2 separate regions of the Homo sapiens genome follow, and region 1 is linked to region 2. Evidence: fine-mapped expression QTL. A gene starts in region 2. The other region holds a variant in brackets. All regions are shown on one strand. Distances are from middle to middle. Region 1 has its middle 35 kb from the start of NORAD. Region 2 holds the start of EPB41L1 (erythrocyte membrane protein band 4.1 like 1).

What was found. PIP is the estimated chance that this variant, and not a neighbour inherited with it, causes the effect. A credible set is the group of variants that fine-mapping cannot tell apart.
Region 1: its variant is the best candidate, but not a certain one, in a credible set for the expression of EPB41L1 in esophagus mucosa (GTEx, PIP 0.59).

The regions. Positions count from the first base shown.
Region 1 is chr20:36,084,743-36,087,645 of GRCh38, forward strand. No RefSeq gene overlaps it. Among named protein-coding and RNA genes, the nearest start is that of NORAD, 35 kb to the left of the region's middle. The variant G/C (reference allele first, on the strand shown) is at 1,207.
Region 2 is chr20:36,153,437-36,156,339 of GRCh38, forward strand. EPB41L1 (erythrocyte membrane protein band 4.1 like 1) reads left to right here and starts at 1,304. Exons shown (of 22, transcript NM_012156.2): 1 at 1,304-1,460. It overlaps EPB41L1-AS1 (EPB41L1 antisense RNA 1), which reads right to left and starts at 2,324. Exons shown (of 4, transcript NR_147703.1): 1 at 2,160-2,324; 2 at 1,627-1,818. It overlaps LOC124904893 (a long non-coding RNA gene), which reads right to left and starts at 1,010. Exons shown (of 2, transcript XR_007067572.1): 1 at 461-1,010. RefSeq lists a silencer at 1,043-1,242.

The DNA.
Region 1 (2,903 bases), 69 kb before region 2:
ATCTGGAAAGACCCCATTTCCAAATAAGTTAATATTCTGAGGTTCTGAGGGGACATGAATTTTGCGGGGTACACTATTCAGCCCACTATATAGCATCATCTTTTGCTACTCTTTTGCAAATTCTATTTCTGTTGTTTATCCAGTGTCCATTTATGTGTGGGCAGAGTGGTCATTTTATAATATAAATCTCTGATGAAATGGTTAGACATTTTTCATGAGATAATCTTATTTAATCCTCACAGCAGTGCCGTGAGGTAGATGCTACTAAAATCACCTACTGTTGAGAGGTGTGCCAGTCAGCATTTGCTAAGTATGACGTGATAACAAACAACCCCAAACTCTCAGTGACTTACAAAAAGCCAATTGCTTTCTTCATCACATTACACATCACAGCTGTAGATTCACTGCAGCTTTGCTCTGTGTCTTTTCATTCCAGGGTCCAGGCTGAAGGTGCAGGCCCTATCCAAGACACAACATTTCCAGTGGCAGAGATAAAAAAGTAAGATTTCAGACTCAAACATGCAATGGCACTCCAAGTTTCTGCTTCGAACTGGCATGTATCTCTCTAGCTCACATTTCATTGGCCAAAGGAAGTCATGTGGTTAAGCTTGACAATGGGCTGGGGAAGTGCACTCCTTCCTCTGGAAGGTACACAAGTCACATGGCAACTGGCTAGGATGGATAATTCTCTTACTGGCCAAGGGAAGGGCAAATAATGGAGAAAAATAATACGTCAACCACAGGGGTTGAGTAACTTTCCCAAGATCAAACCACTGGGAAGGGACAGAGGCAGATTCAAACTCAGACAGTCTCCAAAGCCATAGTGAACTCCATGGCTCCCTACTGCCTGTTAGATGGAATCCAAATATATTTAAGCTTTAGGGCATTCCTGCAGCCTGGAGGGCCCTTCTACCTAATTTGTGTGCTGAATTCACTCTTTAAGGCTCCACTCCAATCTCAACTCCTTGGACTCACTCTTATTTGTCATGTGTTCCCTCTGCTCTAAGGCCCTTGTACAGTGTTCCCAAATGTTTGCAGTATTTTGGGATGAAAGGAGTGAGGGGCACAAGCTGCAAGTGGACTGTGCTCCTGAGGATGAGAGCACTTTGCCTACTTTTCCACCCCTCTAAACTAAGCTTAGTATCTTGTGCTTGGGTGACTCTGACAGGTCAGCCCCGCATGACTCACTCTGTAAGCCTTCAGCGC[G/C]GGTCACCACAAGGTCCTGGTTTAGGGTGTGTGAGTTGGTGGGTGGGGAGGGGAGGTGGAAATTAACTTTCACCTTTCAGGAACCTTTCCCTTCCCCAGGAGAAGGACAAGTGTAAGTCCTTCCCTTAAGTAGTCTGGGCAAGTCTCTACTCATCACTCCTAGGAGGACTGGGGAGGTCCTGGAAGGTGCAGAGGAGGAAGCTCTGAGAAGTAGAAACAGCACCAAACTGCACCATAGAAGACTTTACTAATTTGTCCAAATGACAGAATTTACCTTCTCTGAGCTTCAGTTTCCCCAGCTATAAAGTGGCAACAACACTGATCTTGCCCTCCTCCCTAAGTTGCTACAAAAAGACATAGTAAAAATCTTTAGGGTGCCGGGCAGGGTGGCTCACGGCTGTAATCTCAGCACTTTGGGAGGCTGAGGCAGGCAGATCACCTGAGGTTAAGAGTTCGAGACCAGCCTGGCCAACATGGTGAAACCCCATCTCTACTAAAAATACAAAAATTAGCCAGGCATGGTGGCAGGCACCTGTAATCCCAGCTACTTGGGAGGCTGAGACATGAGAATCGCTTGAACCCGGGAGATGGAGGTTGCAGTGGGCAAAGATAGTGCTACTGCACTCCAGCCAGGGTGATGGAGCAAGACTCCATTTCAAAAAAAAAAAAAAAAAAAAATCTTTAAGAATGCAGCCTTGAAATCGCACAGACTTGTACTGGAATCCTTCTCATAAGCTATGTGACTGAGAAAGTTATAGATCTTCATAAGCCATTACAGCTACCTCCCAGGGTGAGAAAATTATGTAAATAAATTTCCTAACATATACTAAGTACTCAATAATGTTGGCTATTCCTATATGAGATGATGAAACTTATTATTATATAGGGAAAGTCCCAGACGAGGACCCATTTTTGAACATTGAAAGGAGGGAGTACAGAGGCTAACTTTTCTTAGAATTGGTTGCTTCTTTTAGCCAAGTATAAGGTGTGGCTCAAAGGAATGAGGAAGCAGTTAATGAGGTGACAGGGCACAGAATACTGTTTGTCTTCACAGATCTTGGGGGAGGGATACAGTGGTTAGCTGACCTTCCCAAAAGATCAGAGATCCTGGTGTCTTGTCCACCCACAGATGCAGGCCACTTGACTCTGTCCTGTCCCCTCCTACCAGTCCAGTCACCACGTTCTGGTGAGGCTGCCTTTGAAATAATAATAACAATGGTACTTGTACTAATGATATTATTACTTTGAAGTGTATGAAGGCTTTCTAATACATCATCCCAGTTATCCTTCATTATCTCTCTCCCATTCACAGAATCCAGAGTTAGGAAGGATATTGCAGATCATTCTGCATTTTACAGATGGGATCTCTGAAATTTGAATAAAGGAAGGGATCTACTCAAGGGCTGGGATTTACCTGAGACTACACAATAAGTTAATGGCAGGGGCAGGACTAGAACCTGCAGCTCCTGACTACCAGCCTAGTGCCAGTGCCTCTTTCAAGTCACACTTGCATTGGCTTTCCATTCCCATGGCCTCCCAGTCTATTCTTTTTTTTTGTTTTTTGTTTTGTTTTGTTTTGTTTTGAGACGAGTTTCGCTCTGTCGCCCAGGCTGGAGTGCAGTGGTGTGATCTCGGCTCACTGCAACCTCCGCCTCCCGGGTTCAAGCAATTCTCTGCCTCAGCCTCCCAAGTGGCTG
Region 2 (2,903 bases):
CAGTGGATTCTGTGGTAAGAACTATGGCCAGCACATGGTAGGTACTTAGGAATGATGTGAAGAATGAATGAATAGTTGTGTATGCCTGGAGGTGAGGGTGGTGACTGGGGGTTCGCGGTCATATGGGTTGCAGTGGACCCATGGACAGAAATCTTTGGAGATCATGCTGCGGTTACCCACCATTCTCTCTATGCCTTCGCCATGAACTAGGGACCCTAGAGATAGGAACGTCCAGCCCTTTCGTCATTTGCAAATGAGGCCCAGAGCATGGAACAACTTGCCCAAGGGTACTTGCTGAGCCAGTGGCAGACCTGGACTGGAACCCAGGCCCTCTCCCTCCCAGAGTCCTCTGTGGCTTGAGGTCCCCACCTTCGGATTGTGTGAGATGGAGGTGCTGCAGTGGTTGGACTGGTTTTTTTAGTGGGTAACAGTGCTCCTGGAGGGGAGGAGCATGGCTTACCTTGGTTTTGAGCCATGATCTCTGCCACAAGCTGCTTGGCCAGCCCCTGCCCTTTCCTGGAGCTCAGGTGCACACTCAGCCTGTGCTCAGACACATACAGCAAGTGCGCCTGTACACAGGCCCCATCCCCAATAGGTCCCTGGGCTCTCACTGTTACACTTACTGTCATTGTCACCAAGGCGCATGTGGACAAATGTACACATAGACACCCTCTGGACACACTCAGAGGCACAGAGGATTCCCAGGAGACAGTTGTAATACCTCCTCCCGGTGGGGGAGGACGCCGAGTCCTAGGCGGGTTCTGCCCTGTCGCTGTGCTGCAGGGGTGGTGAGGGGATCCGGCTCCGGTGGGATGGGAGGCCCACTGAGGCTGAGTCACCCCTTCTGAGTCAGGCATGCATCCCCCTCTTCTCTCCTCCCCCTCCCTTTCTCGCTGATGAGCCCCCAAGAGGGCTTGGCGAGAGCAAGGAGGCCCGGGGCTGGCTAGGACCAGGGTGGGGGCAGCCGGGGCGCTCGAGAGGCCCCCCAGCTGCACAGTCCCGCAGTGGTCTGGGAACTGCCCGTGTGGCACGGACCGGGAGGAGGTGGCCTGGGAGCCTGAGAGAGAGGGCGGGGCGCGGGGGGAGGTGGGTGGTAGAGGAGACAGGCAGAGAGGAGGCGGAGGCAGGGGCAGGGCCGCGGCGCGCTGGGAGGCAGGCGCAAGCGGCGGCCGCCCCTGGGCTGGGCTCCGAGGCCGGGGCGGGGGCGGGGGCTGGCCGCGCGTCGGGCGCCAGGCCCGGGGCTGTGGGCACCGTGCCCAGCCCCTGGCGCACGCCGAGCCGCCGCCGCCGCCGCCGCTGCTGCAGTCGGCATCCATCAGCGGGCGGGGGTGTCGCCGAACAGGCTGCTCCGCAGAGCCCGCCGCGACCCCGCGCCGCCCCGCCCCGCGGCCTGCCTGCCAGAGGAGCCGAGGGGGCCGCCCCTCGCCCAACCTGCCCGACATGGGGAACCCCGGGCCCAGGTAGGCACATGGGGGAATCAGGTGGCTCTCGGGGCCGGGGGCTTGCAACATCTAGGCCCAGCCTCCAGCCCTGGGGAGGAACGGGGGCGAGGCCGAGAACTGAGTTTTCAGGCTGTTGGTCCCCTGGCCAGTGTGGGGGAGGGTCTCGCTGTTCCTCCCTACCTACCGGTCTGCAGCCTCCTCCAAGGCCTGGAGAGAGGATCCGGAGGCTGGGGGTTGGCGGGGGGTTGGTCCTGCTGTAGGATGAGCGGTGGGTGGGCGCTGGGCTCCCACCGGCTGGCCCAGTCTCTTTTCGGAGAGCACTCCTGCTGCCGCCTCCAGAGGCCAAGGGCTCTTTGGATTTCTGCTGCTTCTGACGCTGCAGGAGGAGTTCTTGGCTGGAGCCTGGGATGCTGGCGAGCCCTTGCCCTCATCTCTCCTCACTCTGGTTACGGACCCTTCCCCGCTCTGGGCTTGCCTCCCCTTCCGTCTCCCTTCCAAGTACCTCAGAGCTGCTAGGAGGGATCTTAGCCCTAGGACTTCTGCAGTTCTGGCCTGGCATTGTCCTGGCCAGTGACCGTCCCCTGATCAGAGGGAGAGGGCTTGTGTGTCCCACTTGTGTCTGGCACCTTCACACTTGGGGAGGTCCAAGGGCCCGAGAGGCTGGGGTCTCAGGGATGGGCATGGGGGGCCAATGTCTACAGCCATTGGGGTACTTACTGGGTGCAGAGGCCACTGACTGGCAGACGTATATGGCTCAAAGTGGTCCATGGAGACCTTGAAGTCTGGACAAGGACCAAAAGGGAGTTCTGGGGATGCTGGTCTCTCCCTCAGCTGCCAGCCATCGTCGTTGCTTTTCCCTCGGAGCTCTGAGGATGCATTGGTGGGGGAGAGAGCACCACGTGTTCCCACATTCACTTCTGGATCCGCATAGCACCTCCTCTGCACCCAAAGGTGGGAATGTGAGACGGCCAGATTTAGGACCTCTCCAGGGCTGTGCGGGGTCCAGCGGCTTGGCTTCATTCCCACCCCATCCCCCCACCCTCAGCATTAGGAGCCTTCCAGAATCAGTGGCACTTGAGCCAGGTCAAGATCTGGGGCCTGGATGGTGCCCTCCGCAGCTCTTGGAAGACAGTGCCTCCTGTCCCGGGCAAGGGTGTGGAGAATAGAGGCAGCTGTGTGCCTCTCTGCCCACCCATTCCTCCAGATGGAGCCTGCGGCAGAGGCAGCCTGTGCCAGCCTCCCCTATGAGCCACCGTGGCCCAGGAAGGCTCTGCCAGCTCTGTGCAAGGATGGAGCTGGCTTCTCCTGGCCAGCCTGAGGTCATGCCTGCCTGGCAACCCAGGCATAGTATTTATGGCATGCAGAGCACAGTCCCTGGGATTTCAGGGGCACCTCAAGGCAGTCCTGGAGGAGATCAGTGCAGAGGGCATTGTTCCTATTAAAGCCCTTCCTGGGCTATGT